2 separate regions of the Homo sapiens genome follow, and region 1 is linked to region 2. The links come from fine-mapping of genetic effects on gene expression. A gene starts in region 2. The other region holds a variant in brackets. All regions are shown on one strand. Distances are between the middles of the regions.

The links. PIP is the estimated chance that this variant, and not a neighbour inherited with it, causes the effect.
Region 1: its variant is fine-mapped to the expression of FOXD2-AS1 in blood mononuclear cells (TOPMed, PIP above 0.99).

What each region holds. Positions count from the first base shown.
Region 1 is chr1:47,450,943-47,462,371 of GRCh38, reverse strand. No RefSeq gene overlaps it. Among named protein-coding and RNA genes, the nearest start is that of FOXD2, 19 kb to the right of the region's middle. The variant A/T (reference allele first, on the strand shown) is at 5,780.
Region 2 is chr1:47,429,158-47,440,586 of GRCh38, reverse strand. It overlaps FOXD2-AS1 (FOXD2 adjacent opposite strand RNA 1), which reads left to right and starts at 5,946. Exons shown (of 1, transcript NR_026878.1): 1 at 5,946-8,454. FOXD2 (forkhead box D2) reads right to left here and starts at 2,543. Exons shown (of 1, transcript NM_004474.4): 1 at 1-2,543. The coding sequence starts at 2,451. The coding sequence ends at 964. It overlaps LINC01389 (long intergenic non-protein coding RNA 1389), which reads left to right and starts at 3,270. Exons shown (of 5, transcript NR_126355.1): 1 at 3,270-3,297. RefSeq lists enhancers at 356-1,125, 5,946-6,461 and silencers at 2,314-2,493, 2,524-3,423, 3,904-4,063, 8,863-8,972.

The sequences.
Region 1 (11,429 bases), 22 kb before region 2:
ATTATCACAAAGATAATGAGAAGCCAGTCAAAGATGCAATCATGTCTCAAAACTCTTGGACAAATGATTGGAATTTCCTGAGGTGTTAGCTCCTTCGGTGAGGTTACTGCTTGCCCTAATAGGATGGGCAGGTCTCAGTGCTGATGGGGAGTAGGAAAGCCTTTGCTATTGAGCAGAGTAGAGGTATAGTTTAGAAGACGTAATGTGATCTTGCTCCAGCTCACCACACTCTCATATGATGATCCCATGACAGGCAGCTCCAGGGGCAGCCATCTGCCATGCTGAGGATGATCTCCACTCAGCCAATTGCTTTAGAAGCCACTGTCCCAGGTGGCCCAGCACTTGGTCCCACATCAGAAAGACAGGCATCATGGTGTGAGGACTTACCTGTCTGTAGAGGGTCCTCACACCTCTCTGGGGTGTGCTTAGAGCTACATGCAGAATGTTCAAGGCTTATCCAACAGACCTGAAACCATTGTCTCAGATGTCATGAAGGAGTAGAAAGTACCTGAAAGTCACAGCTTACTCTAAGATGGAAGAACTCCCTCCTGCTGCTTCCAGGCACACACCTGTCCAAGGAACCATCACTACAGGCAGGACTTTACATGAGTGAATTCAACATCCAAAAGCTAATCATTGGAATAGAAGCAGGACCACTCACTAGTGCATTAAGAAAGAGATCCTTGTGGAGAATGGAAAGCTGCAGAGGATCACAATTATTAGTAGTAACTATTATCAACATTATTAACTTGAGGAGGAGCAGAAAGATTCACTGCATCTTTACAAAAGAAAGTAACTACTCTAGTGACAATTAAATGACTCAAACCATAGGGATTGGGGCCACTGGAGAACTTGGTCACCTCTGCTTGATAGGAAACTCCTTCCTCATGTGGGTCTGATTAGGAACACTGAATGTGGTGCATGAGGGAGTTAGCATAACCTAGCCAGACCTAGAAGGGTCTTGCAATAACTTACCGGAGAAAGGTAGAAAAAGAAAAGACATCTGCTTACAGTATATAATATAACAAGTTCTTCTGCAGAAAAACAAACACCTCCATGGATACAGTTCACTGGATGATCATAATACCAGTGCAAATGATGCAGCTATCCCTATCTTACGAAATTAAAACGGGATCTCTAAAAAGGTAGAAGACAGATGAAGCAAAATCTTGATAACTGTTGCATCTAAGTGGTGGGTATACACGGGGCTCATTGTACTGCTCTTTCTACTTCTACATAGGTTTGAAAATGTTCCTAGGAAACAAACGTTCATTCTGTCGCCCAGGCTGGACTGCGTAGTATGATCACAGCTCACTCCATCTTTGAACTCCTGAGCTCAAGCAATCCTCCCACTTCAGCCTTCCAAGTAGCTGAGACTATAGGTGTGCACCACCATGCCCAGTTAACTTATTTTATTTTTGTAGAGAGGAGGTCTCACTATGTTGCCCAGGCTGGTCTCCCACTCCTGGGCTCAAATGATCCTCCTGTCTCAGCCTCCCAAAGTTCTAGGAGTACAGGCTTGAGCCAGGGCACCTGGTCAAGAAATAAATTTCTAAAAAGTGGCCTCAAAAATTCAGAGATACTGCTCCTACTTTTTAAAAACTGTTGAAGCTTTTGTTTGTGATTTAGGTGACTCTTGATTATACCAGACTTGAAACTACCCTCTTTGTGGTATATGCAAAATAAAGATTCTTGTGTGGTTGCAGAAAAGAGAAGGTGGGGGTGAGGTGAGAGGGGAAGAGGGCATGACAAAGTGAGGGAGCACAGCAGAAAGAGATGAGCTTTCATATGAGCTGGACAGGTTCCCATCCCAGCTCCATCACACTCTAGCTGTGTGATGCTGTGGAGGTGTGTGCTACTCTCTGTGCATCTATTTCTTCTGGAAAGTTAAAATATTGCCCCCCATAGGCTTGTTATGAGGCTATAATTAAGTAATAGATGTTGAATATTCGGCACACAATAAGCACTCAAGAAATCCTGACTATTACTACTTTATAAATATCAGTACTTTAAAAAATGGATACATTCAGGAGATTCTTTGCTTTACAAAAGAATTCACCACAGGGTGCCTTTAAGCCCTCAGCCCTGCCAGTGCATTTTAAATGGGATTGAGTTTGCAAACATCCATTTCTCATGACTTTTTCAGAACGCAGCCAAAGTACTAATGAAGGCAGGCGGATCTACAGCAAGAGCTCCCCGGGCACACTCTCTCAGTCTCAGATCCTGTCCAGCAGGATTCTCTGAAAGATTGGAGACTAAAAACGTTTTCTCTGAAAATCCACAAAAACCCACTGGCTGCCCTCTGGGAAGCCTTTTTTCCATGCATATTTGGAAGGGCTGTGGTATCTCCAGCTATGGGTCCAGGCTTATGAGGACAATAGCAATAGCAATAGGCTAACAACGTTACCTAACATTTATTGAGGGCTTCCTATGTGAGAGGTGCTGTGTTAATTCCCATGCATTATCCTGCACAAGGCAATAAAAGCTAATGTCTGCATAACCACAACAAGTGCTTTCAGGTGAAAGAAGTTCTGGTTATTCCTCACAAAAGTCTCACAGGGTATTATGATTAATGTTGTTGTTGTTTCACATCGAGAAACTGAGGCACAGAGTAGAAAAGTCATTTGCCGAAGGTTACCCCCTGTAAATGATGGGTTATTTAGAACCCGTCTGGCTCTGAAGCCCACCCTGTTACAGACTCCCTGCTCCCCATCGCATACCCCCTCCCCAGCAGCACTAGATCCAGCAGAGACAGGACTATAGGGCAGAGGGTCCCTGCAGGAGGCGCTACCCCTCCCTCTATACCCTCCCCATCTCACTTAGCCCTCCACAAGCTGTTGTCAATTGCACTGAAGTATTTACAGCAACCAGCAACCGCTGACACCTCTGCCCACGTGGGCTATAATTTGATGCTCAAGTTGTTAAACAGCCGCTTTCGAGCGCTGAGCTCTTCATACATGAGTGTCTCTCCCAAGAGCCAGGCTAGCTGCCTCTCTACTGCTCCTGAAGGCTTGCACACTTCTGCTGGCTCCAGGCATGCACACATGTGCACACATGCCAAATGCACCATCACACACAGACATCTTCACACACACCATCACCATCACGCAACAATCCCAATTTGCTATTGAGGACACAGCCACCAACACACATGCTATGTATCACAGACTCCCAGACTCACCTAGTTCACACCCCTCTTGTCGTCAGCACGTGAGACACTACAGAGATAATGGCCGTAGATACTCTGTGTAGAGCAGTATTCACGAGTGAGTGATTGCTAGTAATGCCCATCCCAAACAGAGTCCCAGGAAGTATACTCTTCCCGCATAATTATCTATCAGAAAATTACCCACACGCTCAACTCTGCATTAGGGTAACCAGATAAACACTACATATATTTTTTCATTTCCTTGTGCTAAATGTAGCTTTCACTTGGATGCATTGCATTTGTATGTGGCTTCCATCCTGGTATACCTACCTAAACCCCTGACTCCTTATCTATTTGCCAGGGCCTGTACGTGTTGTGGGATGGGGGTCGGGGATTGTGGTGTACATGTGCTCAAACACCAATACATGCCTCTGTGTGTCTGTTTGCACAAAGCAGATCCAGCAATTTGTTGATGGTCCTCTCCCCAGGGAGTCTCTGCGGAGTAAAACTGCCCTCTGCATAACTATCCAAGAGCAAACACATCCCTAAACCAGATTCCAGCCACACACCCCCACCCCATATATAGCAATGGGGGGTCAGAAAGAAGAGAGAAAGCAGAGGATAAGGAAGGAGAATGAGAGGGGGTAAGGGCCATGTGGGCAGAGGAAGAAACTGGGGTCCATCCACCCAGGAGAGAACAAGTTCAGGAACATGTGCAGTCACTGTGAAGATGGCCCAGAGGCTGGGCCCAGAGGCTGTAATCCCCAGCACTTTGGGAGGCCGAGGTGGGCGGATCACCTGAGATCAGGAGTTCAAGTCAGGCCTGGCCAAAATGGTGAAACCCCATCTTTACTAAAAATACAAATATTAGCTGGGCGTGGTGGCAGATGCCTGTAATCCCAGCTACTCGGGAGGCTGAGGCAGGAGAATCGCTTGAACCCAGGAGGCAGAGGTTGCAGTGAGCCGAGATCGCACCACTGCACTCCAGCCCAGGCAACAGAGCAAGACTCCATGTCAGTCTTAAAAAAAAAAAAAAAAATGGCCCAGAGTTGACCAGCTGACAGTCTGAGGAGGATGCAGGTTTCCAGCCCCTCTGGGACCCTCCTGGATCCCCTGCTCTGTGAGGTGCTTTGGAAATGGTGCCTAGGAGGCTCCATGGGGTGCAGGCAACAGAGTGAGCCCCAGCTGAAGAAGCCCTGCACATCCGCTTTCCTATGGAGGTTTGGGACTGTGCAAGACAAGGAGATTCAGACTAGGCACAGAGATAGGCTAGAAAGATAAATGGGGAAAGAAAGAGCAGGAATAGCAAAGGAGGGGAAAAGAATGTCTGAATAGGATGGATGGGAAGACTCAAGCCCAAGGCAGATTCAGAGCTACGCTCAGAGATAAACGACAGTAACTGTTTCTCACTGCAAGAGCCATCGATGAAAGGACTCAGGGCAGAGGGATCTCTGCTGCAGCTTTAGCAGGCCACTGATAAAAGGCAGGTCCAGCCGGGCGCGGTGGCTCACGCCTGTAATCCTAGCACTTTGGGAGGCCGAGACGGGCGGATCACGAGGTCAGGAGATCGAGACCATCTTGGCTAACACGGTGAAACCCCATTTCTACTAAAAATACAAAAAATTAGCCGGGCATGTTGGCAGACGCCTGTAGTCCCAGCTACTCGGGAGGCTGAGGCAGGAGAATGGCGTGAACCTGGGAGGCGGAGCTTGCAGTGAGCCGAGATGGCGCCACTGCACTCCAACCTGGGGGACACAGCGAGACTCCGTCACAAAAAAAAAAAAAGGCAGGTCCTGCCCTGTGACCCTCTCAGCAGTTCGGGACAGGAACCATCCCAGGGGCCTACAGCAGCAGAGCAGGAGAGGAGTGAGCATACCTCCCAGAAGACCTGCAAAAGGATCTGACTGGGCTCCCCAGGACAAGCAGGAAGCCAAGGGTAGAGAATAAAAAGCAAACCTCTGAGTGGGGATTGGGGAGCACCTGGACCCATGGATTCAGAAGTTCAAGTTCTGATGCTATTTATGGTGCAAACCCACAGCAGCCACAGAACTTCACCAAGTCTCATCTGGAAAATAGTGGCTACAAGTGCCCATCTCAAGGCACTGTGAGGACTCAATAAGGCAATAAGGGTAGAAATGCTTTCTAGCAATTTCTGTGAATCTCCTTGTTAATCAAGATTGCCAGGAGGGGCCGTGTGCAGTGGCTCATGCCTGTAATCCCAGCACTTTGGGGGCCAACGTGGGTCAATTGCATGAGCCCAGGAGTTCAAGACCAGCCTGGGCAACATGGTGAATCCCCATCTCTACAAAAAAATACAAAAATTAGCTGGGTGTGGTAGTACATACCTGTGATCTCAGCTACCCGGGAGGCTGAGGTGGTAGGATCACCTGAACCTGAGGAGGTTGAGGCTGCAGTGAGCTATGAATGCACCACTACACTCTAGCCTGGGTGACAGAGTAAGACAGACCCTGTCTCAAGAAAAAAAAGATTGCCACCCAGGAGGGGAGAAGTCACAAGTCACAGGGTGGAAATGACAGTGAGTAGCTCTCCATCAACATGGAGATTCTATTATTATTAATACTCATGTATGCTTATGTGTCCTGCCTAATTCCACAAATAAGTTCATTCCAG[A/T]TATAAATGTGATCAGGCAGTATTTGAGTATTTGTCTTTCTGTGTCCAGCTTATTTCCCTTAACATAGTATTCTCCAGATTCATCCATGTTGTCGCAAATGACAGGATTTCACTCTTTTTCATGACTGAATAGTATTCCATTCTGTATTTATACCATATTTTCTGTGTACGTGTGTGTGTGTGTGTGTGTGTGTGTGTTTTGAGACAGTCTTACTCTGTTGCCTAGGCTGGAGTGCAGTGGTGTGATCTTGGCTCACTGCAACCTCCACCTCCCAGGTTCAAATGATTCTCGTGCCTCAGTCTCCCAAGTAGTTTGGACTACAGGTGCACGCCACCATGCCTGGCTACTTTTGTATTTTTAGTAGAGAAGGGTTTCACCATGTTGGCCAGGCTGATCTCGAATCCCTGACCTCAGGTGATCTGCCTGCCTCGGCCTCCGAAAGTGCTGGGATTGCAGGCATGAGCCACCGTGCCCAGCCAATACCATATTTTCTTTATCCATTCATTCATTGTTGGACACTTAGATTGATTCCATATCTTGACTATTGTGAATAATGCTGCAATAAACATGGGGATGCAGATATCTCTTCAGCATATTGATTTCATTTCCTTTGGATGTATACCCAGTAGTAGGATTGCTGTATCATATGATAGCTGGATTTTTAATTTTTTGAGGAACCTCCATGCTGTTTTCCGTAATGTTGTACTCCACAAAGGATTTGAGTTGGCTGAGAGGTAAAGATTATTGACAGACTGGCCAGGCGCGATGGATCACACCTATAATCCCAGCACTTTGGGAGGCCAAGGCAGGTGGATGATGAGGTCAGGAGATCGAGACCATCCTGGCTAACATGGTGAAACCCAGTCTCTACTAAAAAAAATACAAAAAATTAGCTAGACATGGTGGTGGGTGCCTGTAGTCCCAGCTACTTGGGAGCCTGAGGCAGAAGAATGGCATGAACCCAGGAGGCGGAGCTTACAGTGAGCCGAGATTGCGCCACTGCACTCCAGCCTGGGGGACAGAGCCAGACTCCGTCTCAAAAAAAAAAAAAAGATTACTGACAGACTCTCTGAAGGACAGATGGATAGACAGAGGAATGAGGACAGAGGCAACAAGAGGGAAAGAGATATCCAGGGAAAGATCATCATTCATTCAGATGTTCAATGCAACATTTATTTAATGAGCACCTATTATGTGTCAGGTACTGTTTAAGTCCTGGTTATGATCAGGGAATTCAGGTGACTTTACCCAGATTAAAGCTATGGCAAATGTGACTTGATTCCTCTACCTTCCACACACACTCATGTGAACCTCTTTCATGCACCCATGTGCTACCATTCTCAAAGAGGATCATTTCTAATGGAATCTGGTGACGAGAATGAGGTGGAGATGGAAAAGCGTTGTCTATGGAGCAGGTCTCCATCTGGGGATCCCACAGCCTGCTGGGAAGGCTGTTCTGAGTAACCTCTCTTCATAGGGTAGTACATGGGGTGTGTAGGAGCCAGAGAGGGGAGAGGTGTACTTGGCTCTTGGCTCTAGGAGCCACTCAGCACAAATCAGAGCCCAGACATCTGTGTGCCACTTGAACTGGACTTACTAGACTTGAAATATCTCTGTCTTCCTCTCTCCTTTTCAAGACATCATGATGTCCTCTGTGTTTGTCAACAAAGCTAATCAGTCTCTCACCTGGATCTTTTTTTTAATCTTTTTTTTTTTTTTTCTTGAGACGGAGTCTCACTCTGTCACCCAGGCTGGAGTGTAGTGGCGTGGTCTTGGCTCACTGCAACCTCCGCCTCCTGGGTTCAAGCGATTCTCCGGCCTCAGCCTCCTAAGTAGCTGGGACTACAGGAGTGTGCCACCACACCCGGCTAATTTTTGTATTTTTAGTAGAGACGGGGTTTCACTATATTGGCCAGGCTGGCCTCAAACTCCTGACACTGTGATCCACCCACCTTGGCCTCCCAAAGTGCTGGGATTACAGGTGTGAGCCACCATGCCCGGCCTATCTGGATCTTTAAAACACTGAATGGGGCCAGGCGCAGTGGCTCACACCGGTAATCTCAGCACTTTGGGAGGCCAAGGCAGGTAGATTACCTAAGGTCAGGAGTTCAAGACCAGCCTGGCCAACATGGCAAAACCCTGTCTCTACTAAAAATACAAAAATTTGCCAGGTGTGGTGACATGCACCTGTGACCTCAGCTACTCAGGAGGCTGAGGCATGAGGATTGCTTGAACTCGGAAGATGAAGGTTCCAGTGAGCTGAGATCGCGCCACTGCACTCCCACTTGGGTGACAGAGCAAGACTCCATCTCAGAAAAAAACAAAACAAAAACAACAACAATAAAAAAAAACACTGAATGGAACAGAAGACTCAAGGAGACTCTACATGGCAGTCAACGTTGTGCAGTCATCAAACCCCATTTCCCTTTCCTCCTGCACATACAGCAAGACTTCAATTCTTACTCTACCTTACAGTTAGGTGGAGCCAAATGACTGGGTTCTGGCCAAGGAATGTGGTCAGAAGTGACACTTGCCACCTGCACCAATTTTTTTTTTTTTTGAGACAGAGTTTCACTCTTGTTGTCCAGGCTGGAGTGCAATGGTGCAATCTCAGCTCACTGAAACCTCCACCTCCCAGGTTCAAGCAATTCTCCTGTCTCAGCCTCCCGAATAGCTGGAATTACAGGTGCATGCCACCATACCTGGCTAATTTTTGTATTTTTAGTAGGGACAGGGTTTCATCATATTGGCCAGGCTGGCCTCGAACTCCTGACCTCAGGCGATCTGCCCGCCTCAGCCTCCCAAAGTACTCGGATTATAGGCATGAGCCATCACGCCTGGCCATCACAAAAGTTTTAAACGATTTTGATAATTTAATCTCAATATAATTGGCTTATTTCATAGTCCTGTAAATTTGATTTCATGCATTAAAAAATATTTATTTTTAGGTATCCATAAGCTGATCATTAATCTACCTAAGGGGGTCCATGGTACAAAAAATAATAATAATAATAAGAGCGCTTCCCCTACAGAATGATGGAACCCCTAGATGGAAGGCCATTTGGTCTCTGAGTGACTATGTAGAACAAAGCTTCCCCCCATCTCACTACCACCACCAGTGATCCAATATTTAGACTACGAGATGAGTGAAAAATAACCTTTATTTGTTCAACAACTGAGAACTTGAGGACCATTTATAATGCAGAGGGATTCTATTATGTGACTACAGGAAGAGTACAGGGAAGACCTCTCAGCTTAAATTAACTTTGAACTCACTCAGCTCTCCCAAATGCCCTCGCTCATAAAGGATGAAATGCCCTAGATGTCTTCCCCTCACACCCAACCTTCTATGGTCCAAATTCTCCCCAACTTTCAAGGCCCAATTCAAATGCCACTTCCTCCAGGAAGTCTCCTGTGCCTGTTCTCCACTCACAAAATGTATCGCCCCTGAATTGAAGCACCAAGAGCTATTAACTTCAGACTATGAGCTTTCCCAGGGAAGAAAGTTGCATAAATTCCCTTCCTGTCCCCAAACCTACACCCCACACCCACAGTGGGCCTCTTCCAGGGATACCCAGCCATAGTAGGATCAGTAAATGTTGCATGGGAGGCAAGAGGGTAGTCAGAAAATGGTTTGATTCAGCTCTATCCCCCAACGGCCTGGCCCAGGTCCCCACAGATTATGTGTGTTTAAGGAGAATGTATGATACAAGTGGGGCTGGGGAAGTACTAGTGTTTTCCCACATTAGGGCCTCAATCTCCCTTCTCTAAAACTACCTCCACCCAAGCTGGATTTTCAACCAATGTATATCATCCTCCAAGTCTTTGTAGTTTTGGTAGCCAGACAAGGCCAGAAGTCATGAAGGGGTTAAAAGAAACATGGGTCCTCTCCAACCCTGGAGAATGATACCTCCTCAGGGGTCCCAGGCAGAGTCAGCCTCTTTGTCCCACACCCTTGAAAGCCACTCCCTCTGCTCAACCCCTCCCTTCTTCTCCCGCCTCTGCCCTATCCCCAACAAGCACTTGGAGCCTCTGTCCTTGGGCTGGGAGCACTCATCTTCTCTGTGCAGCTCTAGAGAGCTGGGGCCTGCTCCCTGGACAGCTGCTGCACCATGGGAGTGCAGGGATGGTGGGGAGACAGCTCTCTAGCCCCCTCCCTCAAGGTATGACTCCTCCAGTCCAAGCTCCTTTTGTCTTGAGAACGGAGGTGCCCTGAGCTTGAGTACAGGCTGCCTCTCTCCCTTTGGGTTATCTTGCAACACTGGGGCTCAGGGGCCCCCAGCCACTGCTGTCCTGGACACTGTTCCCCCACTCCCCCTTCCCCACCACACCAGGCACCAGAGATCATTATTGCTCTATGAAGGGACATATTTCTGAATCACATTAACTCCACTTGTCTTTGGGCAATGCAACACATTTTTGGGGCCCTTCTACACATGCAGTTGATTCATTCTTTCATGTTCCAGGCCTTGTGCTGTGTACTGGAAAAGATGAGGGAGGGGGAACAGCAAGCAGAAAATAATACATCACAGTAAGTTCTTTAAAAGTATGAAAAGTCTTAGGATTGGGAGGCTGATGTGTGAGGATTGCTTGAGCCCAGGTGTTTGAAACCATCTTGGGCAACATAAGGAGACCCCCATTTCTACAAATAAATAATTAGCCATGCGTGGTGGCTAGCCTGTAGTCCTGGCTACTCAGGAGGCTGAGATGGGAGGACCGCTTGAGCCCGAGAAATCAAGGCTGTAGTGAGCCATAATCATGCCACTGCACTCTAGCCTGGGTGACACAGCAAGACCCGGTCTCCAAAAAAAGAAAAAAAAAAAATTCTGTGGGAGTGGGGAGATGCTAGTGAAGGCTTGGTGGGGGAGGTGACCCTGAGTAGGGAGTGAACCAGGTAGAAAGTGGAAGAAGGAACAATCAGATAATCAGACCCATGAACCACAGAATCACTCTGGCTGTTGGGCTCATTAAAGAGTAGTCTCCTAGAATTATTCTTTTAATCAATGACTATTTATTGCACCAGACAGCATGCTGGATAGAGATCTCAGTGTGACTGTGGCCTTCAGTGAAAAAGAAAGAGAGGGGGAGAGAGAGAGAGATCTCAGAACTGAAGCCATCTCATATCCCAAAGCCAGCCTGACTTCCACATCGTGTTCTTGAGGGGCAGACTGCCTCTTCCAAATCCAAGGACCTGGGGAGAGGAAGTTGCTCTGGGTGCTGGAATGAAGGGTGAATCCCTTCTGGTGACATTGGAGGAGGGCTGCTCAAATGGAAATCTGTGATGGATGATGACACACTGGGAGGGGCTCCTGGCTCCCTATAGCTGCCATGACCAGCAAGTCCAGCGGCCAGAGGTCTGTTGACTGAAATCGGAGTCAAACAGGATCAAGTATGGGGTGATGAGTTCTCCCCACAGCAGGCTCCAGAGCTGGGGAGGAATCCCCACCCCATGACATCCTTCAGCTATTCTCTCTCAAGGCCGTCGGCATTCTTCCCTCTGCGCCCATATTACAGCTTTAATTCCACATGCATTTGTGTTTCTTTCTGTCCTCCACTAGATTGTCACCATCCTGAGGACAGGAACCACATCGGTTTTGTTCACCACTGTATCCCCAGTGCAGAGGAGAGGACCAGGCACAAAGTGAGTAA
Region 2 (11,429 bases):
CACAGTGGAGAAGTTTAAATCAATGCACACCCAGTGGACAGAGAACGCCGAGAGCAGCGCGCTGTACAGATATTTACACAAAATTATAGGACCCCCTGCCACAGGGTGTGCCCTTGCCCACTCCACCCCCACCTCTCCAGTCCCTGGCCCAGACCCTTCTCTTCCACCCAATCTCATTGCCTTTAGCCACAATAAATATCACAGGGCCTGGGACAGGGTGGAACACTGACAGGGTTGCTGGCCGGAGATGGCTGGACCCAGCCAGCCAAGGGAAAGGAAAGAAATTCCTTTAAAAGCACCCAAACACAAAAGAGAAAGGATTTTCCTCAGTGGAGTGGGATCCAGGGTTTCTGCAGGGAATATAAAGACCCCCTGCTTCACCTCTCCGTTCAGCTCCGCCTGCGTAGACACTGGTTTAGGCTTCAGAGGAAACGAACTTCCTTGGAGAACAGCAAAAAAAAAAAAAAAAAAAAAAAGGTTGAATTTTTCTTTTAAGCACAAAGCAGATAATAGATGTCTTTAAATTATAATATTGGACAAGCAGGGTCTCAACGTTGGGGAAGAAGTGAGAGGGGAAAGGCAGAAAGGGAGACCCTCTGTTGGTGTTTCTGGCGGGATCCGTGGAGCCTGGCCAGGCATCTCTCCCGGAATGTGTTCCCCGAGAGGCGCAGAGGCAGGGAAAAAAACGAAGCCCCCACCCCCCTGCTTTTATTTCTCAAACTGTAAAGAATCTTGGCCTGCGACTTCTTCGCGTAGCCCCGGGCCTGTCGCCCTGAGCGATAGAGCCCGCTTAGTCCCAACTATCTGCGAGATTCTGTGCGTGGAGCCTGAAGTGCCGTGTCACGCGTGCCGGCCCAAGGTCTGGAGACTTCATAAATAGACTCCCTGAGTTCCGCTGGGACCGCAGGAACTCCCGGGAGAGGCTGAGGAGTGCGGACCTAACCGGCCCTGGGCCTGCTGCGGTCAGAAGTGGCAGCCACTAAGGCCGGCGACTTTGCTGGCAAACCGGGACCCTGAGGACAGCAGCGCGTCCCCGGGATGCGAGAGGCGAATGTGGCCAGCAACGGGAGCCAGGGCCGGAGCAGTCAGCATGGCCAAGACCTGGGCTTGGCCCCCAGGACCCGCGGCTGCCGCGAATGGCGGTCCCGGAGAGCCCTCGCCGGCGCCCGGGGGTGCTGCCCCGCCGCCACCGTGGCCCATGATGTGGTCTATAGAGAAGGAAGGCCTCTGCCCTGCCCCGGCGCCCCCGCCGCCTGCACCACCGCCCGCGTCCGTCTTGAGGCCCTGGCGCAGAAGTGCGGTGGGCAGACCCGCCGCGGTGCCGGCTGCGGGAGGACTCAGGGACGCCGCGTAGAAGGCTTTGGCGCAGCCCAGCTCCGCGCCCAGGAAGGCGGGCAGGCCTGCGGGGCCCGGGCCCGGGCCCGAGCCTGAGGCAGGCGCAGGAGCTGGGGCCGATCCCGCGCCTGCGAACACCGAGGCCGTCGGAGGTCCGGGTGGAGGCGCGGCGGCGCGGCCTGGGGGTACCGACAGCTGGCAAGGAGCGGCGGCGGCTGCCGCGGCGAAAGCGAAGGCGTGCGGGTGCGGGTGCGGATGCGGGGCCGGCCCCGGCGGGGGTGCGCCGTAGGCCGGGAGAGCCAGCCCGTAGCCGTAGCCGTAGGCGCCGTAGGCAGCGAAGCCGGGCAGGAAAGCGCCGGGATCCCCCGCCGCCGCGGCCCCGCCACGCAGCAGCAGCTCCGGGTGAGGGTGCGGGTGTGGGTGCGGCGGCGGCAGGGGCTGCCGCTTGAAGCGCTTGCGACGCCGCAGGAAGCTGCCGTTGTCGAACATGTCGGCCGACTCCGGGTCCAGCGTCCAGTAGTTGCCCTTGCCCGGGTTGCCCGGCTCGCGGGGGATCTTGACGAAGCAGTCGTTGAGAGAGAGGTTGTGGCGGATGCTGTTCTGCCAGGCGGGGAACTTCTCCCGGTAGTAGGGGAAGCGGCCGCTGATGAACTCGCAGATCTCGCTCAACGTCAGCCGCTTCTTGGGGCTCTGCAGGATGGCCATGGTGATGAGCGCGATGTACGAGTAGGGCGGCTTCACCAGCGGGCTCCGCGTCGCCGCGCCCCCCGACGGCGGTCCCGGCCCGGGCCCCGCTGCGCCGCGGGCCGCCGCGGCGCCTGGCCCCGGGCTCCCCGCTGCGGCCGCCGCCCCCCGGGACGCCAGAGCGCGGGGCTCGCCGTCCGAGCAGCCACCAGACTCCTCCTCGTCCTCGGCTAAGTCTGCCTCGGCTTCCTCCGCGGGAGGCTCGTGGCCGTGGGGGAGCACGTCCCGGGGGGCGCGGGGCCCGGAGCGAGCTGGGAGCTCCCCCCCGCCGCTGCCGCCGCCCACCACGTCTATGTCTGCGTCGGCCTCGGACAGCGCGGCCGGGGAGCTCTCGGAGGACATGATCTCGCAGCAGCAGCTGCCCAGGGTCATGGTGCCGCTGCCGCCGCCGCCGCCACTCTCCGGCTCCGCTCCGGCAGCGGCTCGGGCTCGGCCGCGCTGCCTCTGGGGCGAGTGCGTTTTGCGCGCGGGCGGGGAGGGGGCGGGGGACTGAGGCAGGCAGGGAGGGGTGTCCCCCGGCTCCGCAGCGCCCCCTGGCGGCCCAGCTCGGCCGCGCTCACCTTCCAGGGCACGACCCGCCGGCGGCCCCCGCCACTACCCCGGGAATCCGAGCTGGGACCCGCCGCTGGGGCGCAACGGAAGGAGCTGAGGCTTTCCCTTACCTGGGCGGGCCTCAGCCCCTAGTCCCCTCGGGGTGGCAGTGGTTGGTGGTGGGGGATTGTCCCTCCCGCCTAGCGGCTGCCTAAGGCGGAAGAGCTGCGGGCTAGGGCGGAGCTCCCTGGGCGGGGTGGGGCGAGGCGACAGGGGCGGGCGTAGCGCCTCCGCTGAGGGACCCGGCGGGAACAAACCGCCGCCGCGGCGGGAGCTGGGCTCGAGTGGCCGGAGGCGGGCCCTTGTCTTCGCCGCCGCTCCTGCACCCTGTGCTCCCTGAAGCCGCCGCCTTCAGAACGCTCAGCCCCTGGATGTTAAGGCTCACTCGGGCGCCAGCCGCAGCCAGGGAAGTGGCGGCGGTCCCCACCCGTCCTCTCCCCAAGGCGGCGCCCGGGCCACCGGGCCGAAGCGCAGTGGGAGCGCGAGGCTGAGACGCCGGGACCCACGCCGCCCCAGCGCGGCCCGCCGGCGCCCACCCGAGCCCGCACGGCTTCCAGCCCGAGGGGAGACGCATTCGAGTGATCACCAGGAGCGAACTTGGCGCCCGCAGCCTTGGGCCTGGGAGAGGTGAGATTGCGGCGGCGCCCTCTCCTCCCTCCGCTGTCGGGCCCGCCACCCCTCTCCGCGCGGAGAGGCCGGGCAGAGCGCCGGCCGCTGTGGCCGCGTTCCCGGGGCGCGGGCCGGTCTACTGCTCCGAGTTTGCCTGTTCTCCGACCCTCTGGATCTCGGCATCCGTTTGTCTCAGTCTCTGTGACTATCTCACTCTCCGTGAGTCTCTGTGGAAACGGCATTTGTCTGGATGTCTGTTCATGGGTCTGGGAATCCGCTTAATTTCTCCCTCCCCTCTCCCTGGCCCCAGTTGCCCTGAGGACTGGACACCCCCCACCTTCCTGGCTCCCAGGGTTCTGGGCCCCACCGACAGGCGGCAGGACCTCCTCCGCCCCCTGCCCGACACCCCCTCAGTGAACCCTGACCTCCACCAAGTGTTGCCTTCATCTCTCAAAAGTCTTGTGCAACTAAGGTTGGCCCTGTGCCTTGTTTCTCGCTAGCCGGGTTCCTGCCCATCCTATTAGACCTCTTTCTCCCCCGGCCTCCCTCCAGGACCCAGAAACAAGCAGCTTCAACACAGATTGGGCCCATTTCAGCCTCTGGGGCACGGAAGGGGAGATGGGCGCTGGACGTGAGCAGGAACTGAGCGGATGCCTGGGCTGCTGCCCCGACAGCGCCGCACAGTGGCTAAAGCTCGGGCGTGCGAGGCCGGAATCCCAGCTGCCTCCGCTGTAGCAAGGCTGTGTGACCCTCATTAGGTGACTTCCCCGCTTCGGAGCCTCAGTTTCCTGGTCTGCATAGTAGTTAAGAGCAGCGACCTTAAGTCAGGCTCCTGGGGTTCCAATCCTGCCTTCACTACTTACCCTATCTGTCACCTTGGGCAAGGTTCTTTGCGCTTTGTTTCTGCCTTTGTAAAAATGAGGCTAGTAACACCTACCTCAGAACTGATGTATAAGTGTAGCCATATTCTAGGCCATTTAGGAAAGGGTACTGAGAACACTTTGCAGTTTCATCTAACAGCAGCCTCCAATCTACGGGATAGCCTGGTGTTAATCCAACTCTCCCATTCCACAGATGGAGCTACAGAGGCCCAGGATAGGGAGAAAGAACTCACCCAGGCTCCTGCAAAGAAATAGAACAGAGTTGGGTTGCAACCCTTTTCACAGAATCCTCAAAATAGAGTTCTTCATCCCCCCAAGGTAAGGGCAGAAAAAAATGGAAGGCAGGTCTGACTACTCATGTCCTTTGAGAGGAAGTCGCCTGGGCCCCCTCTGGGACCTCTGACCAAGGGGATCCATTTAATGTGCTGTTCCAGCATAAACTGTCATTGGAAAAAAGAGAAATCTCGTCCTCAAACCATGGACAGCAAATTGGACAGGGACTAGTAGCCCTGGAATTGGAATTTCCTGGGTGACAGACTGTCCGGGGAAAAAGGTCTTGGAGAGAAGCTTCTTGCATGAGTCCAAGGAAACTCACATACCTAGGGTTGCTAGATTTAGCAGATTTATTTTATCTGGCAACCCTACACATACCTCAAGCTTGCTCTTGACTACATGGATATCTGTCTCACACTCCCAGAACCCCACTCACAGATACCCCACACCATGGACCACACACCAACTCCAACCCAGCTCAACTCTGCTAGTATCTAAACAAGTGGAGAGAAAAACAGTGTTGGCGTCATCCTACTCCATTTCACCTTCTGAATGTCCTCATTTCTTTTTTTTCTTTTCTTTTTTTTTTTTTTTTTTTTTTTTGACTGAGTTTCGCTCTTGTTGCCCCCCTGCTGGAGTAAAATGGCCTGATCTCAGCAGCTCACCACAACCTCAGCCTCCCAGGTTCAAATGATTCTCCTGCCTCAGCCTCCCAAATAGCTGGGATTACAGGCAGGCACCAACATGCCCGGCTAATTTTGTGTTTTTAGTAGAGAGGAGGTTTCTCCATGTTGGTCAGGCTGGTCTCAAACTCCCTACCTCAGGTGATCCACCCGCCTCGGCCTCCCAAAGTGCTGGGACTACAGGCGTGAGCCACCCTGCCCGGCCTGAATGTCCTCGTTTCTAAAACAGCAAATGGGAACCAGTAGCTTCCTTCCTTGCCAGCACTCCCCTGGCTCCCCAGGCTTTGGTCAGGGTGAGACTAGCCAGGGCACTTGCTGCCCAAATTTCCTGCTTCAGAGAAGTTCTACCAAGCAGCTACAGCAGCCAGCCCTTGCCTCTGCCTGGCCTTGCTGCACGTTCACTGCTACTGAGACCTACACTGGGGAAGGGGAGTACAGAATCCCCAGCTTCTGCTCTGCAGGGTTGGGGAGGGAGAATCCAGACCCTTCACATACATACTTTTTACAGGAGCGGAAACTGAGGTCCAGGAGATCATGTTACTTGTCAGGCTTTTGAGGGGCGCTAAGCTGGGTTGGACCTACGTGTCCGGGTTCCTAGCCCAGAACCCCTCTGTTTATCCAAATAGCTGTTTCTCTAACCGAGCTCCTCTCTGTATAGAGGGATTTCTAGTAGCCTCTCCTCCCTTCCAAGGTTCTGGGCCAGTTTGTTTTCAACAGTGTCAGGAGTAAGTGCACTGGGGACTGGGAGAAGGGCCACCGCGGGATTCGGAATTTATTTCGTTTTCTTTGCTTCTTCTGTGACCCTTACTTCTTTCGCCTACCGGCTCAGCCTGTTCGGCGTCTTGCAGCAGTGCCTGCGATCCCGCGTGAGTCCGTCGCTCCCTCCGCGAAAACCTGGACTCTTTCCCAGAAGCCTTGGGCTCCAGCACCATGCCTGCTGCAGCCGCCAAAGAGCGGGAAGCCACAGGCTCTGCGGGTCTTGGTTACAGCGTCTCTGGTCGTGCCGGGCCTCCTTCTGCATCTGTTCCACGGCCCGGCCATCTCCCTCGTGCAGCCCAGAACAATTGGGAGGAAGCGTTGGCGGGCGGAGGGGGATGCCTGTTGGGCTTTTCCACTAGTTACTGAGTGTTTTTTGCGAAGAGTACGTTGCTATCAGTGGCGTCCGGGTCGTCTCTCCCTCTCTTCCTTTTGGTCCCCATAAATGAGCTGTTCTCGGCTCTGGGAAAGAAAAGCCCTCCAGCGATTATGCGGATCTAATTAAGTCAATCAGGAAACTGCCGGAGAGCGGCACTGGCTTGAAGCGGAGTTTGTCCTGAGGCACAGCGGAACGATTGCACGCGGCCCTTTTCAGCGGTTCGAGCTCGGCCAGCGCCGGGCTGCAAACGGAAGCCTGAGCTGGGCTTGGGGAACTACGCCCGCAGATTTCTCTAATTTTATTCACAAAACTGGACACCCTCAGGGAAAGCGGCAAAGCCGGCGCGAGCCTCCTTCCCACTCTGGACCTAGCTGCAGCTCCAAAGCGAGATAGCTGTCTAGCCTCAGCCGGTACAGCTCCCGGCCCCTTTCTCCACCCGGATCTTCGGCTGCTCAGAAGCGATCAGCTCCCTTAGCCCAGGTGGGAGGCGGGAGACTCCAGATCCTGTGACCCGCGGAGGCAGACCTCAGACATGTTCCCCATGCACAGAAATGACTGGGGCTCCAGTGTGTGCACCTTCAACTCTGAAGCCCACCTGCCCACTTCAGGCGCTGGCGCGGAGATAACCACCACGCGTCTGCCGGGCAAAGTTCGAGAGTGAATTTACATCTTCTCTTTCCGCTACTCCTGGCCACTGTCCCCTCCCAGCCCCATCTCCCCCGCCCCCAACCCTGGACTATGTGGTAGGGGACTCGCTTAAGCACCCAAGTACTGCGCGGTTGTTGAGACCAAGGCGAGCTGCGGAGCCTGTGGGCTGTTGTTCGTGGGAAGAGGGTTGCGACCTCAGGAGAGACCGAAAACAGCGCCACTTGAAACCCGCCGGTCCTGAAGATCACAGAGTTCCCGGAGTGGTAGGGAAGGCTCCACGCTCTTGAGAGCAGAGGCGGCCAGGGGCAGTGGGGGACGCTTCCAGGTATGTGGGAAGGAGAACTTCATGTCTAAGTGCGCTCTTGTGGGTTTCTCGGCCAGCTGGGCCGAGCCTCTCTTTCTCTGTCCTCATGTGTCTGTCCTCTGGACAACAGTGGCTCTGTATGGCGGATTGCGACCCTGAGTGACGGGCGCCTGTCTTGCATCCTGTGTCCTGTGTCCTCCCCTCCAGACCTCATGCTTGGTGTCCACAGAGTGGACCCAGGACTGCCTGGAAGGCTTATCATCCAGGCCCGCGACTTCCCCCCAGAGTCTGAAGCCTTGCGACCTGGTCGGGGACGACAAACCTGCTCGGGGTCAACAGCGAGACCCTAGTGGGGAATGAGGATGGGTGAGGGTGCGCCTGGGTTGAGGGTCTGTGACTGTAGCATGGAAAAGGAGTTCATGCAGGGATCGCACTGAGGGACAGCCAAGAATACTCCAGCGGCAGCCTCCCTCCTACCAATTACACGCCGCCTGCTGGCACAGTGGCACCTCGGGAACAGGACGCCCTTCCGGGCCCTGAATTGGGGCAGCGCAGGAGGGAGGGTGCAGAGCCATAGCGACCTGTGTGTACCATAGACATGCACATGCGCTCACCTTCACGTGTAACCCTTCTGAGTCCCAGACAGGGTAACTGGCGAGGCCGTAAGTACCCTCGTGGGGGCGGAAATATTGCCGCGTCCCTGAGTCCTCTGGGCAGATGCAGAGCCGCGTAAGCCTCATAGAAGCAAAGCCAGGGGAACAGTGGGAGCTCTGGCCTCGCGGTGCGGACGCTAGTAATGGATTCCTGGGGAACAGCGACCTCTGGAGGAGCCTCTCATCCACACAGAGTCAGGAACTAAAGGACTGGTTCTGAGACAAAGCACCCTTTCCTCACCCTACTCCCATTCCACCCGCTTGGAAAAGTTATCCAGAGACTTTTAACCTCCGGACTCCACTCTTCGCTTATGTTTGCTTTTTTTTCCAACCTGTACCCACGCTTCAAAATCCCTGCTCCAGTCCTGCCTCTTCCAGAAAGAAGCCTTCTGGCCAGCCCAGTTCCTCTTCCCCTCTTCCTGTTCTGAGCTCATTCTCAGGCCACACTGCACAGCCAACCTGCTTCCTGCCTGCTCTTCTCCAAAAAGACTGTGAATCCACTCCACCCACGCCTTGTGTTGCATGCTGGGCATGCCGTTCCCTGCCCCAACCCACCCCACCCCCCAGTGAATAAAGACTGAAGTTATTCATTCCAAAATTGGACTGTTGATTTTTCAAAGTTAATTTCACCGATGGGGAAATTGAGACCCAGAGAGAGGGATGACTTGCCCAAAATCACACAGCAAACTGGTAGCAGAGGTGGAACTAGAACCCTACACCATTTCCCAGGCCAGGGTGCTCTTCATCTCACCTGGATGGGGAGCAGGTAATTTGGGGAGAACTCACTTTGATGGGTGAGACCTGAATTGAGGTTTCACACTGGAGCGGGGAATGCAGGAGGAAACTGAGAGAGTGGTCATTGCTCCAGGATGAGGCAGGGAGGGCAATGCTGTGCTGGGAGGCCAGACCCTTCTTTCTCCCATCCTCAGCCCAGATCAAGCTACTTGGAAGGACTTCACATTTCAGGGGTTGGCTGCATTTCTTACATCAGCAAGTGGGCAGGGCTAAGGTCTGGGAACAGACTCAACTCTGGAAAATACCACCCTCCCCCATCCACCACCACCACCCAAGGGAAGGAGGAGCTGAGAAACCTCTCCTGCTCATACACTCAGAGGGCACTGCAGAGACCCCAGATCAACAGGAGGCCTTCTGGTGCTTGCAATTCAGTTAGTGAAAAGGTGGAAGTGTGATTTGCATGAGGCTCTAGTGATACCTGCTCAGTAGCCTGAGGCCTTCTCAGAGCTGCATCACTTTCTGTGTATAGAGTCCTTGTCTGCACAGGATACCTGGCAGCCTGGCCCCTACCTGCTTGCCCAGCCCCTACCTCCAACTCCTGTTCTCTACTCACACCTGATTTCCTCTTTCTTCCCTCTTCACCTTTGCAGGTGGCTCACTCTTGCCTGGCTCACTTCTAATCCTTCCTAGTTAATTTCACACATCAAGTTTGTGAGATGCTTTCCCTGACAACACTCCTGCGCTCACCTGACTCCCACCTCTGTGTTCCTGAAGCTCTTAGCTCCATCTGTTTTTGTTACTTGTTTTTCAGTCTGTAGATTTTATTATAGACCAGGAGTCCTCAACCTTTTTGGCACCAGGGTCTGGTTTCATGGAAGACAGTTTTTTCCACAGACCAAGGTGGTGGTGGGCAAATGGTTTTGGGATGAAACTGTTCTACCTCATATCATCAGGCATTAGTTACATTATCATAAGGACCACGCAACAGGCGGGGCATGGTGGCTCACACCTTGTAATCCCAGCACTCTGGGAGGCTGAGGTGGGTGAATCATTTGAGGTCAGGAGTTTGAGACCAACCTGGCCAACATGGTGAAATCCCGCCTCTAGTAAAAATACAAAAATTAGCTGGGCGTTGTAGTGGGTGCCTTTAGTCCCAGCTACCTGGGAGGCTGAGGCAGGAGAATTCCTTGAACCCAGGAGGCAGAGGTTGCAGTGAGCCGAGATTGCACCACTGCACTCCAGCCTGGGCAACAGAGTGAGACTCCAGTCTCAAAAATAAATAAATAAATAAAAAATAAGGAGCACGCAACCTAGATCCCTCACATGCGCAGTTCACAATAGGGTTTGTGCTCCTATGAGAATCTAATGTCGCCACTGATCTGACAGGAGGCGGAGCTCGGGTGGTAATACTTGCTCACCCGCAGCTGACCTCCTGCTGTGTGGCCAGGTTCTTAACAGGTCACCGGTTAGGAACCAGTTAGTGGCCAGGGGGTTAGGGATCCCTGCTTTAGACTGTGAGCTCCTTGAGAACAGGGCTCATTTTGTGTTCATCTTTATCTTTCCTCTTCTGCAAAATGGGGATAATAATTGTACCTACCTCATTGGATTGCTGTAAGGATTAAAAGAGATGATGCACATATAAAGCACTTAGCCTACTACCTGAAACTTTGAAAGATCTCAATAAAGGCCGGGCGTGGTGGCTCACGCCTGTAATCCCAGCACTTTGGGAAGCTGAGGCAGGCAGATCACCTGAGATCAGGAGTTGGAAACCAGCCTGGCTAACATGATGAAACCCCATCTCTATTAAAAATACTAAAATTAGGCCGGGCACGGTGACTCATGCCTGTTATCCCAGTACTTTGGGAGGCTGAGGCGGGCAGATCACGAGTTCAGCAGATCGAGACTATCCTGGCCAACATGGTGAAACCCAGTCTCTACTAAAAATACAAAAATTAGCTGGGCGTGGTGGTGCATGCCTGTAATCCCAGCTACTCGGGTGGCTGAGGCAGGAGAATAGCTTGAACCAGGGAGTCGGAGGTTGGAGTGATCCAAGATCGTGCCACCGCACTCCAGTCTGGCAACAGAGTGAGACTCCGTCTCAAAAACAAAACAAAATACAAAAATTAGCCAGGTGCAGTGGTGGGCACCTGTAATCCCAGCTACTTGGGAGGCTGAGGCAGGAGAATTGCTTGAACCCGGGAGGTGGAGGTTAAAGTGAGCCGAGATCATGCTACTGCACTCCAGCCTGGGCAACAGAGTGAGACTCTGTCTCAAAAAAACAAAACAAAAACAAACCAAAAAAAAACCTCAATAAATGTTTTGCATCATCATTATTAATCACTCTACCTCCTGCCAGGCACAAAGCCTGACACACAGTAGGTGCTCAATTAATGTTAGATATGTGGATATATTAATGAAAGAAAAGAGGAAGGAAGAAAGGAAGGTATGGCATATCTCTCTCTCTGGGACTCCCTATAGAACTCTAGGGAGTTCATCAGTAAATCATCAATGGAATTCTGTATTCACTGGGAACAGAGGTTGTAGCTCAGATCATCAATAGAACTACGTGTTCACTAAGAACAGAGGTTGCTTCTCTCCCATCAGTCCCCATCTTTGAGGGGAGGAGAACATGTCTCCCTCTCAGACAGAGTTTATCCGTGGTTTCTGGCTGTAGCAGTCATTGGATTTGTCTGTTGTTCTCTCTGCCTCAGTTTCCTCCTTTTAAAATGGTTGTGACAAATCAAACCAGCTTCCAGACTGAGCCCTGCCAAAGTCTTCCAGGGGCTCCACATTGCTTGTAAGACAAAATGCAGTTTCCCTGGCATGATGAGCTGAACA